Linked DNA regions of Homo sapiens: all the other regions are reported to be linked to region 3. The links are microRNA targets in miRTarBase. Many come from high-throughput screens and were not tested one by one. Region 3 holds a microRNA gene; each other region holds the end of a gene's coding sequence.

What was found. Region 3 holds the annotated microRNA hsa-miR-5047 (UUGCAGCUGCGGUUGUAAGGU, at 1,559-1,579, opposite strand). A microRNA usually pairs through its seed, bases 2 to 8, with sites in the 3' UTR of a target mRNA and lowers its output. Matches are read on the target gene's strand: a 7mer-m8 pairs with bases 2 to 8, a 7mer-A1 pairs with bases 2 to 7 and ends in A, and an 8mer does both.
Region 1: the mRNA of XPO5 is a reported target of hsa-miR-5047. The part of its 3' UTR that is shown has no 7-base or 8-base seed match.
Region 2: miRTarBase lists DST as a target of hsa-miR-5047. The part of its 3' UTR that is shown has no 7-base or 8-base seed match.
Region 4: miRTarBase lists YAF2 as a target of hsa-miR-5047. Seed matches in the 3' UTR shown: 7mer-A1 at 983-989, 8mer at 1,377-1,384 and 8mer at 2,366-2,373.

Annotation. Positions count from the first base shown.
Region 1 is chr6:43,521,334-43,524,546 of GRCh38, reverse strand. XPO5 (exportin 5) reads left to right here. Exons shown (of 32, transcript NM_020750.3): 31 at 1-76; 32 at 542-2,213. The coding sequence ends at 679. POLR1C (RNA polymerase I and III subunit C) reads right to left here. Exons shown (of 9, transcript NM_203290.4): 9 at 3,034-3,213. Among named protein-coding and RNA genes, the nearest start is that of POLR1C, 5.9 kb to the right of the region's middle.
Region 2 is chr6:56,456,230-56,459,229 of GRCh38, forward strand. DST (dystonin) reads right to left here. Exons shown (of 104, transcript NM_001374736.1): 104 at 1,767-3,000. The coding sequence ends at 2,776. Among named protein-coding and RNA genes, the nearest start is that of COL21A1, 210 kb to the left of the region's middle.
Region 3 is chr17:64,499,672-64,502,884 of GRCh38, forward strand. It overlaps MIR5047 (microRNA 5047), which reads right to left and starts at 1,642; the gene lies at 1,543-1,642. It overlaps DDX5 (DEAD-box helicase 5), which reads right to left. Exons shown (of 13, transcript NM_004396.5): 9 at 2,768-2,878; 10 at 2,491-2,552; 11 at 2,339-2,398; 12 at 878-1,102; 13 at 1-655. The coding sequence ends at 252. It overlaps MIR3064 (microRNA 3064), which reads right to left and starts at 1,168; the gene lies at 1,103-1,168.
Region 4 is chr12:42,157,918-42,161,130 of GRCh38, reverse strand. It overlaps YAF2 (YY1 associated factor 2), which reads left to right. Exons shown (of 4, transcript NM_005748.6): 4 at 305-3,213. The coding sequence ends at 542. Among named protein-coding and RNA genes, the nearest start is that of GXYLT1, 15 kb to the right of the region's middle.

The DNA.
Region 1 (3,213 bases), not on the chromosome of region 3:
AAACCCCTCCCTGCAGAAAGTGGCTGACAAGCGCCGAAAGGACCAATTCAAACGCCTCATTGCTGGTTGCATTGGGGTAGGTCATGCACCTTCAATAGTGCTCCCAACCCCCTTCTTAAATCATGTGTATGGGCAAACCATAAACCAGCTGTAGTTATTGACCATTATGGTGAGATTTTTTTTTTTTTTTTTTTGAGATGGGGTTTCACTCTTGTTGCCCAGGCTGGAGTGCAGTGGTACGATCTCAGCTCACCACAACCTCCGCCTCCCAGGTTCAAACGATTCTCCTGCCTCAGCCTCCCAAGTAGCTGGGATTACAGGCATGCACCACCACGTCTGGCTACTTTTTGTATTTTTAGTAGAGACGGGGTTTCTCCATGTCGGTCAGGCTGGTCTTGAACTCCTGACCTCAGGTGATCCACCCGCCTTGGCCTCCCAAAAGTGTTGGGATTACAGGCGCGAGCCACTGCGCCGGGCCAAGAGAATCTTTTAACTACTACTGAGGGCCCAGCATTAATTCTTTCTCATTTGTTTTCCACAGAAACCCTTGGGAGAGCAGTTCCGAAAAGAAGTTCACATTAAGAATCTTCCCTCACTTTTCAAAAAAACAAAGCCAATGCTGGAGACGGAGGTGCTGGACAATGATGGGGGTGGCCTGGCCACCATCTTTGAACCCTGAATCAAGCTTTTGGGCATCCTTCCTCGGCCTTTCTTGTCATCTCTTCTTTCCCTTTGTAGCCGATCTCTAGGCCCTTCTTGCACTGCCACCTCACTTTCCACCACTGTCAGCCTGGAAAGAGATCCAGGTCTGGAGCTGGAGAGAACAGGCCCTGTGCAGGACCAGAAGTAATTATACTAAAGTATCAAGAAAGGGAGTTAGGGCTTAAACTATTCTGTCTAGATGTCCCAGATAGTTCCCATTCTACTTGGAGATTTGGCTTTTCCAAGAAAAGCTAGAGCAGAGCAGCCCTTCTCCCACAAGCCCTCCCACCCCCGTGCAGCCACATACCTGTACAGAATGGTAACTAAGGGTGCTGTGCCCAACCCTGCGACTAGCAAGGCTCGCAGCAAGAGCACAGCCCTCAACTACTTGTGCCAGAGTTTCTCTTGGACCACTCCAACTCCCACTGAGCCCTTTTGCTGCTGGGCTGGCAGGAAACTTTCCCCACTCCCTAAGGGGCATGTCTGGGTTAGGTGCTAAGTGCTGAAGAGAACTTGGTCAGTTCTCTCAACTTTGCTTTGGGCAAGAATCTGGTCACCTGATGGGATCCATGGTACAGGCTACTGCTAAACTTGGCACAGTATCAAGTATAGTACCTCCAAGGACCAGGGCTGGGAAGTCTTTAGTGCTAACATCCCCTTTAGAGTTCACACATCTTGCCCTTCCATGAATGACCCCTCAGTCTGGCCTCCCCAGCCTCAAGGTCCACTCAGGCACAAGAGCCACAGTACCCTAGATAGTGTCACATGACACCGTTGTCATCCAAGGATAATACAGACCAACTAGGCTACATCTGTGATGAGCAGCTAGCAAAGCCGCTGGTCTTCTCCTAGGACTAAGTCCAGGTGCCTTCCACAATCTCATGGTCTTTCAGGTCCCTGGTTACTTTTCTCAAAGGCCATTTCCAAAAGAATACATGCCTTCACATCACAACCTGTACTGTGAGTCCATTCTAGAGGTCACTGAAAGGCCCTGTAAAGAGAGGACATGGATACGGGACCTGGCCCTGAGGTTATTACTGGCCGTAAGGCAGAGTTAATCCATACAGAAACCAGTGTGTCCATGTGCTCTGCACAAAAACAGACCTGTTGTCCATCCAGTCCACTGACAAGAGGGTTTCCCCGAGAGCCGAAGTGGACTGAAGCTACAGTTTTTAGCTGGTGCGGGCCACAGGCAGGGTCAGATTGAGAAGAAGCAAAGCTGGGGAAGCAGAAGTTGGGAGTCTTGTGTTGCTCCCTCTTCCTGTGTGGTGCTCTGGGTTTCTGTGGATCGTGAAGGCGATCTCAAGAGTGTTTCCCTCCAAACCTGATAGCTGCCTATTCCTGTCTGGTTGGGGCTGTGGAGGATGTAGTTGTATTTATTGCATTGTAATATTTTTAACATCCTGTGACTTCATGCTAGAAATTTTCTATTGTTTATAGAAACTTTTTGTAGAAACATTAACTCTAAAGCACATCTGCATGTCAGTAAAAATCTCAGTTTCGTACAGAAAGGGACCCATCTGCCTTTTTCAACCTAGTCTTAAAACCAGTGACATACTCCAGGGTTACTTCATGAGCACCCGGGACTAAAACAGGAAGAAATGTGACTGATGATTCTGGTCTTTCAAGCTTTCTGAAATGGTGTGCCAGTTAGAAAAGGATTTCTATTCCTGACATACCCAGACTAGGCAGCCCATACCATTCTCACAGTGTCTTTCGTGTGTGGCTGCTGGGCCTGGCCCACAGGAATTGCTACTGTTCTTTGTTGGAGCTGTCAATAGCAACATGAACTTCCCTGGTAAACCAGGAGATAGGTGAAGTGGCACATTCACTCTAGCTTGAATGTTTTTCTAGGGTTTGGCTGTGCTCCCAGAAACCACCTTAATTTGCCAATTCTCAGGAGGTGTTCTTTCTGTTGTTTTTGAAACAGGGTCTCACTGTTACCCGGGCTGGAGTGCACATCTGATGTTCTTAATTGGTAAATGCTAAACCAGTTCTGAAGTGAGGCCCCCTGTTTTTCGCGGTGGCTCACACCTGTAATCCCAACACTTTGGGAGGCCCCAAGGCAGGCGTATCACTTGAGGTCAGGAGTTTGACACCAGCCTGACCAACATGGTGAAACCCTGTCTCTACTAAAAATACAAAAAATTAGACATATAGCTAGGTGTGGTGGTGCATGCCTGTAGCATCAGCTACTCTTGCCTCAGCCTCCTGAGAATTGCTTGAACCCAGGAGGAAGCTGCAGTGAGCTGAGATTGCACCACTGCACTCCAGCCTGGGCAACACAGTGAGACTGTCTCAAAAAACAAACTCAAAAGTAGTCTCAAAAAGTTTTTTTGTTTGGGTGAGTTTATTTACATCTAAGGCCTTATAAAGGCGTAAAAAGTCTCATTTTATGGCACATTTAACAAAATGTATTGATTAAAGCTGGAATTGTCCCAGAAAACTCAGGATCCCTAGTCACACTGGGCTCTCTGTTCAGCAGTCCTGTAGGGTGGGTCAGTCAGAACC
Region 2 (3,000 bases), not on the chromosome of region 3:
TGACTTCCAAGCAGATTTTGGTAACTGACAAGTCCATCCTCAACATGCCTGAAAGGACCTTAGTTACTAAAGTATTATACTAAAAGACAAAGCTCAAGTGTCTTTGCCTTCTTTGTGGGACCCCAGTGGCAGTGGCATCAGACATACACAGACAAGCAGGCATGGCAAATGTACTGTTTGGTGGTATCAGATCACCATTTAACAATAAAAACACACATTTCAAAGCACCTTGTCAAAAAGGAATAGATAACTGTATCTCATTACAATTTCCCTTACTACAAATACGGAAAGCAACTTTTAAAATGATCCAAAAAAGGAAACAAGATCCTTTCTTCTCCTCCGCCTCCTTTTCATTTTACAGGTCAATCCCGGACAGCCATGGGGGCACTTCCCAAACTCTCCCACCTATATCCGAGACTTGGCCAGGCCCATCTACTTCTGCACGGATGTCAAAGAGGACAGTCCACTATTTCCAAAGAAGGTAGCAGTACATGCGAATTAGGAGCTTTGATTTTTAAAACAAAAAAAGTCCACGATTCAACTTCCCTAATGCTTAAGATTCAATTTTTCCAATTAAGATTTTTAGAGTTGAGATTCACTGTAGTGTTCTTTTTTTTAAAGAAAAAAAAAAAAAAAAAAACGAAAAAAAGAAAGAGAAAAAGAAAAGAGAAGGAATGTGTGTAGGGTGGGGAAGAGGTTTCTGTTACATTAACTGAAACTTACAGGACACTAGAGAAGTCAGCCTGAGGCTCTAGGACTATTAGCACAAGAGGAAAGAAATGAGTAGGCATCATGTCAAAGTTTGAAAAGCTCACCTGGGGCAAATACTGACAACTGGGAGCAGTTCCTTAAGACTTCTCTTATTTTAAACCACTTATCTTTTCCAAAAAGCTTATTTTACTACTTAAAAAGAAAAACCCCTAGCTCTTTCGGAGGGGTAGCATAGAAACAGACTGAGATAAAAATCATTGCCTTAAATTTGTCTTTGAAGTGGAAATGTGATCATATGCAAAGCACTAAAGGAATAAAAACAATTTCAATTGCCTTCTAAGATGACATGTTAATAATCAAATGCATGAACTAAATAGCATGTGATCTCATAGGTTAGAATTCCCCTTCTCATCAAGGGCTCCCACCTGAGACCCATGCCTGGACAAAGAAGGGATTACTATTGCTTAAAAATAGCACCTAATTTATGCCAATAGAAACTCCAGGCTCTTCAGTGTTGGCCTCCACTGAAAAGGCCAAGAAAGAAAAATGTAATAATGTTCCCTTGAATCTGAACACCATCAGTGACATTTGCTACAGCAAATCCACAAAGTTATGCAGAATGTTGGGACCCTCATACCTAAAGTTACAACCTGCCATCCTTCTGAGGATATCTGATACTATTTTCATATTCAGGAAAATTTTACAATTTGACTTTTAAATGTACAGAGGCCAGAAGAATACTACTATATTACCTTAATTAAATCTGTAATCCTGCCACACATCCCTTGCTTTTTAGTGACTTATTAACTGATTCCCTCTTGAAGAGGGGAGGGCAGGAACCTTATAGTTTCATGTCACTTACAATGGCTGGTGCATGGCTAATACTTATTAGAAATATTTGTTGAAAGAGTGGTTAACATTATTATAACTCCCTGTTTTTGATGTCCCCCAAATTTACCCTATTTGTTTCTTAGTAAACATATATCATACATATAACCTTTATTTAAAACAAATAATAGAAGAAGTTCACTTTAAATAATCAGGTATTCCATATATTCAAGTGAATATGTTTTATTAAATGCATACTAATATCTTTCTATAGTATGTGAGTACACATAATAAATTAAAATGTATATATTTATTAAATATAGATAGATATAATACCAGAACATGATTATTTCAGATGAGAAATCAAAATAAACCCATTTTTAAGTATCTTTTGGTCACTCCAAATTGATATTGCTCATAAAAAAATACACTAGTTTTCCCTGGGGAAAAAAAATTAATTCCATAGCAATGCAGTTAAGGGACGTGTTTTATTTCATAGCTTTCTGCAAGCAAAATTGCTCTGATACAAAATGAGTTCAATGATACAGGTGCTACTGTCCACTCAAGCAAAAGAAAACCTCACATGTATATGAACGCACTTTATACTTATATTCTTACAGTATAATAGGTCTAATATCCAGGATGCCTCTGGCCTCATTGAAAGCAATGGCAGAGAAATGCTGCAAGGTACTTGAATATCATAGTACTGGCAAGTGCTTGAAGTAACTTCCTGTGAGTTCTCTGTCAGATACTGCAAAGACTGCGTGTGGGTGTGTTTGTCTTTTTGTCTTCCATCTTTTGGTTTACATTTAAATCATCTCAAAAAATATCCCCTGCATGTATCATTCAGCTTCTCAGAGTTTCCATAAAAACAGGAAAATGTCATGAGGTATCCCTAACGTCAGGGATTGATGTAGTGCTGTGGCTGTCAGAGAGGATGTAGACTTACCTGTAGGTACAGTAACTGAGTTTAGTGTGTGCCCGGCACGTTACAGTGCAGAAATGTTAGTTCATGTTAAACTTTTCCTCCTCACATATGATGTGACTTTAACCCCAGAATATCTGACAAAAAAAATTATACAGATAAAATAAAAAGACAAATACACAAATAAGGCCATCTGCAGAATTTTAAACTCGCCTCTTGCAATATTTCACAAGAATTTCTACACCATATTTTACATCGTTCAAACTTAAATAATAAATGCTCAAGGAAGGGCCTTGGTAGAACCAATTGCACTATCTCTTTGAGGACTTGTCCAATTTGCTGGCAGGTGATTTCCTCTGGGGCGTGGGGATTTTTGAAGGCTTCGCTGTGGATGGCCGAGAACCTGCTCGGGGTGTAGGTCTGTGTGTCTGGGGGACAGTTTCCACATCTGAGCACACGGACTGGATTTCTGAAATGTCAAAGTCTGATGCATCACTGCCTCGGCGGCTGCTGGCCCTGCTGCCAGCTTTGCTTCC
Region 3 (3,213 bases):
GTATTTCAAATCACTGTACATTTACTTTTGTGAAAACACTGCCTGCATTTTCTAGTACAAAAAAAACCTAAAAATTGTTTCAGGAATGTAGAGAAATATCCAACTTAAATAGCGAAAAAGTGCACCATAATTACTGCTGCACTGCAGTCATTTCTGCAATTCCCATGTTTCTTAAATAACTATCTTGTCAGATAACACACAATATAAAGAGCAATTATGAAAAACAGACATTTACATATACTTCTAAAGTCTTATTGGGAATATCCTGTTGGCATTGGATAACCAATCATAGGTGCAGCTGCAGTAGCAGGATATGCATATGCCTGTTGGTTCATACCATTGTGCATATTTGGAACATTACTTCCGTATTGCTGAGTGCTATCATAACCATTCTGGTAAGTCCCTGTTGGATTACCAGTCCTAAAACTGGTCTGTATACCAGCAGACACAAAATTACTTCCAAAGCTCCCATTGGTGTAATTTGCAGCACTGTAAACACCATTCTGAGTTTTTGCCCCAAAATCTCTTTTAAGCAGGCTAGAGTAACCTCTGTCATAATTTTCCCTGTCTCTAAAGGTATTAAATCCACCCCTTTTGCCCGCAGAGTATCTGTCCCGACGGTCATCCTTCATGCCTCCTCTACCCCTGGAACGACCTGTCAAGAAAACAATTGCAAATTGATCAATTATGTCTATGACACAAATCATTGTGGACAGAAAGAAACAGATCTATTCATGGTAGGCGTGAAATGTTTTTACAATTTTTCAGCTTAAGTTTTCACATTCAAGGTTTTACTCACCCTCCAATACCATTTAAATGGATTTGTAGACAACGATGTGACTCGTAACTACCAACATTTCCTATCAGTCATCCTTACCTGAACCTCTGTCTTCGACCAACTGAAGCAACTTGGGATTAATTGCTTGATTAGCTTCACGAAGCACAGAGATAAGGTCGCTCACTTGCTTTATGTTATTAGGTGTAAAGAAAGTGTATGCTGTGCCTGTTTTGGTACTGCGAGCAGTTCTTCCAATTCGATGAATATAATCCTCTGAGGAGTTAGGGTAGTCATAATTGATGACAAATTTCACATCTTCCACATCTGTAAGGTGTTGCAGTGTGGCAAAATAGCAATGTACGGAGTTTTGCACACCACAACAGCCAGACCAAAAATAAAAAGTTAGACAATTGTATTCCCAAGAAGGTACGGGCTGCAAAAAATACAGTTAAAATGGTTATCCATTTCCTGTAGGAATACCATTGAGGTTGAAAAAAGAAAAAAAAGCACATGTCATCTGTATAATTCATCACCCACCCAGTGACAGACCCTGTCAAAAGGAATGTGTGTTCCCTAAGCACATTCCCAAATCAGCAAGTTCCCTTACAGATCATCAAGTGACATCTGAATGCTTCTGCGCAGTAGGGCCACTTAAAGTTTCACAGCAACCTCTTCATGTGCTCATTTTGAGGACCTTGAAACAAAAAAATGTACAAGGTCCTTTGCATTACACATTCATCAGAAGTTCAAAATTCTGGCCACACTGCTTGTCTTGCCAAGACCTTACAACCGCAGCTGCAAGAAAACATACCTGTCCCCCAAAAGTTGTTTTTATGCACTGTGTCTCGTCTAGGCAAGCGCTTCCAAGAAGCCAGGATTCACTTGAGAATGTGTCTCTCTCTGGCAGGTCTCGACATGACGACTACTGTGTAGGTGAGGGAGGAACTTTCAAAGCACTTTCTTTTCCCACTTACTATGTGTGAGAAGTTGCTCCTGCTCTAGATCTCATGTGCCAGTACTCACCAATTTGTAAAAGGCTTAGTACCTTTTAAAGCTGCTCTCTCCATTTCAAACTTGAACAAAAATTTCATTGAACATTGAAGTTTGGAACTACTTCTTCGACATTTCAGCAAACTCACTGAAACTCAAAGACCCACAGATCACAGTGAACAGTTTGAAACAAGGCTGTACCATGGCAGTCATGCAAAGCATGGGACAGAAGAAATACCACGGCAGTGAACTGTGAGGATAACTTCCATTTTTTCCCTCGGAGAGAACAGTTTACGGGGCAGAGGTGATATGTTCTGCCTTTTGAAGATTACTGGCACACGTTCAGCTTTTTCACCTCTCTAATCGACTGGAAGCAGCCAGCCGATCACTAGTCCTCCATCCCCCTCGAGTCCTCCGATTGTCATGCCTAGGCCTTGCCACAAAGACAGCACCTTTATGTGAAAAAAAACTTAGAAAAAATGCAGGTTAAAGAAAGCAATAAACTTTCTTTAAAAAAGTTAAATGGAGATCTTCTGGGAAACCAAGCCATGAATGCGAGTTTGTACTAACCTAGCCCTCTGGAGGCCACATCTGTAGCAATCAGAATAGGAGCTTTTCCATGTTTGAATTCTACAAAGGAAGGCATATACATGATCAATTATCTGAGCAGAATTCTAGCTAGGTTAAGTAAGGGGGAAAAATACTTCATTTGAAATATTTACCATTTAGAACCCAGTCACGCTCTTGTTGACTCTTGTCACCATGGATACCCATGGCAGGCCACCTAAGTTAAAAGACAAGTTGTGTTATTAAACTCACATTGAAAACCTCAGACTCCAGTGCTTGACCACTTTTGGTCACAGATCTCTTTAATTTCGCCAGAAATGAAAAAGTTAAATTCACTATCAGATATGAAAAAAATCCACTGCTCGTGATCCAAGTTTGCCCTTTCCTAAGCTGTTTTAATCAATCTGCTTCAATGGAGGAGCTCACACATACCCATCTCTCCTCATTTTTCTGGTAAGCTCATCACATCTTCTTTTGGTTTCCACAAAAACAATGGTTTTATTCTCCTTCTCACTCATGATCTCTTCCATTAGACGAATAAGTCTAATAATAGGAGAGAGAAAGGAAAAATCCTGAGTTTTAAAAGACCATTGCTAGGGCCACACATTTATGGTCAGCAAAACATTAAGTTCAATTTACATGGCTGGAAGTCAAAGAGGAAACGCCTGCTAATCCACTTATCGAGCAGTTCGACCCTTGGTCCTTAAGTCAACCAGGGGACACATGAATTCCTTCTATAGGAAAGCTATAAATGGTGACAGCCATTATTTGAAGGATTCAAGAAATTTTCAGGATTAGTAGGCTAACTAAATGAAATCACACCAACTGAAATAACCTAAAACAACTCACCAAACAATGATCCCTCAATTTTACAGCAA
Region 4 (3,213 bases), not on the chromosome of region 3:
TAAAACATCTATTTTAATAAAATTAATAAGCTGTCTGCAAAATTATGATACAGCTATAGAAGCACAAGTTCTACTTCTAGGCTGTCACAGTTTTTTGGTTGCATTGAAGAATGTTCATGAATGATTGGTTTGATTAATGTTAATGAGTTGAAACATTTTATGATGTTTTTGTGGCTAGTTACACATAAATTGCCTTAAATACATGTATTCATTTTGTTACTTTTACCACTTTTATTATTTATTATATGCTCAGAAATTTGGTAGAGGGAAAAGCTAGTTTAAAATTTCATTTTTTTATGTTTAGGCCAAGATTGAAAAATGTGGATCGGAGTAGTGCTCAGCATTTGGAAGTTACTGTTGGAGATCTGACAGTCATTATTACAGACTTTAAGGAGAAAACAAAGTCACCGCCTGCATCTAGTGCTGCTTCTGCAGATCAACACAGTCAAAGCGGCTCTAGCTCTGATAACACAGAGAGAGGAATGTCCAGGTCATCTTCACCCAGAGGAGAAGCCTCATCATTGAATGGAGAATCTCATTAAAGTTTATTTTCTCCAATTTCTTAGTCACTTCTGTCCTACCATGCAAATACACAGATTATGCCAAGAGGTACCACATTTTCATGACAGATACATTCATGCACAATCCATAATTTGAGTTTTACATAAAATAGAAATTTGTTAGAATTTGTTAGATTTTATTGCAATGATGCCTACCAAACATTTCCAGACTTAACATTTTGGTCTCTGCAGTTAAGTGCCATGAAAATGTGGTTGAATTATTCATTATGCAGTGTTATTGGTAAGTGTATTTTCACTTTTAGTTTAGTGAATTCTAACACATAATTCTTGAATTCTCTACTATTGGCATGTAACGAATTTAAATTTTTTATAACATAGTGCAAGCTGCCTAAATATGTATTATTTGAGAATTGTGAAACAGATAGTTATATGTATACAAGTCAAAGAACAACTTAACTATTGCTGCAACAGGTTTTTCTTAATGGTTATCCTCTTAAATACACCTGCTGGTACTTGGTGTGGTTAAATAGGAAAATTGTTATTAAATAAAGAATTTGTATGAACCTTTGCCAATGTTTTTGACACGTTTTACTAATTATTGTTCCTGAATTATGTTTCTGGTTTTATCTATTTTTTGAGGTTTTTTTGTTTGCTTATTTTTCAAAACATTCATTTATTGTAATGTTTACTAGCGGACTAGTAAACAATAAAACATTGATTATTTAGCTTTATAATTCAGGTTTAGTGCTATTGTCATTGAACACTGGTATTTTCTGTATCATATAAAACATTAAAATTCAAATAATTATAAGCATTTGGCAAAAACAAGAGAAAAGAAACTTGCCATATTTTACAAGCTGCAATTTTAGAAAAGCTTTAACTTAATGATAGTTTTATCATTGTTTTCTTGTCCCAAACTTATCCAGGGCCATAGAAGTATGAATCTAATTAAAACAGAAATGGGAATTATTGCACAGAAATGGGAAATAACTAATTTTAAATCAGTCAAATTGGCTTCTTATTAAATACAATAATTCTTATGAAAATCATAGTACCCTATTTTCAGACACAGCTGCCAGTTTACACATTTCTCAGTATCCTGAAAGGAAAAAAGTATAGCCCCACTTATACTATGTAAAATTACCAATAAAATATTTTTATGACTACAGATTTTGCATTTTTGTTTACAACTATTTAAAGAGTTTTATGTTGTATTTAGAATTTCAACCTAGAAACCACACAGTACTTAAATTCTCCTGGGGTCTCCTGCTTTCTCTTAACCATTTGCTTAATATATATCTACCTAAAGGAGACTTCTGAATTGTAAATGAACTTAAAAATAGAATGTGGATGCAAAATATCACATAAGACATCATGATAACATTTGAAGAAAAAATAAAACTGTAGACCCTAACAGTTGTGATATTTGGTGGTTTCATGTGGTAATGTAATTTTCTGTTTAATTACAGTACTTTTTACAGGCACAGTGGTACTGTCTTTTTTGTAAGATGCTAGTTGTGAAATACAATTAATTGCATACAGTAAAAGTCTGTGATTAAAACATTTATATACCTCATTCTTTAGTGTTGTTAAATGAAAAATTAAAATTTGTGTTTATTATAAGATACTTTCAATGGAATACCAGCTAACCAGATATGTTCCTTTAAAACATGAATTTTTTTGTCTTATTCTGTTTTTAACATGTTTCAAATGTTTTATACATTTTTGGAGATAGTAAAAATTTAAAAATGTAATAGGGAAAATATTTAATTTTTAAGTCAAAAACTATGCTTTAAAGGAATTACATCTTATGATCAAATAACTTTCAGGATGTATTTTAAATGAGCTGCAAGAGAGAAAAATCTGACAGGAGATGGGATTTTACCTGAATGGAGCATACTCATATTTCTACATAGGTGGGAAGATACTCATCTTTCTACATAGACGGGAACACGGTGTAGCATGGAGATTAAGCGTGCTAACTGACACCTCATGTTTGAATCCTGTTGTAGAATGGAAATGAGCTTAAATTACCCAAGCTTACTTTCCATCTATAAAACAGGGCTAATAATGGTAATCACATCTAATTTATAGGGTTTTTGGGAGGATTAAGTCAATCCGTGTAAAATTCTTAATTATCTGACACATACTGGTCACTCAGTAAATGTGAGCTTTTACCATTGTTATAGGTAAAATCCCATTACAAAAATACAAAAATATTTTTTGTAACAGTTATTTTCCTGCCCTCTTGGATGACCTAAAGTAATAGTGTTTTATAGATTTCACTAAATTTTCAGTGTAATATCAGATGTTTTCTCTGGATGCAGAAAGACCATCTTTCCATAATTAAAGAACCTGGTGGGTGTGCACTATGAGATTGGAGAAATGAATTAAGTTGACTTGAAATTATTTTACTTTTATTAATCACAGGTATCTCAACCTGCCTTTGTTTCACCCTACTTCAAGTACACTTCCACACCAGGAAAACAGACCCAAATTCCATAAACAGAACTGACGTTAAAATATGCGAAAGATTCAGAACCTAGGTTTAGGGTACATGTTTTTCTCTGTTTCATGAACTTACAGTGTGGTTTGAGCACTGGGTTCTTTTAGCCAAATTCCATACAAAAAGAATTTGGATGTTTTCCAGCATTTATTACCTTACTTTGCTATAAGTAAGAGTGAAGATAGG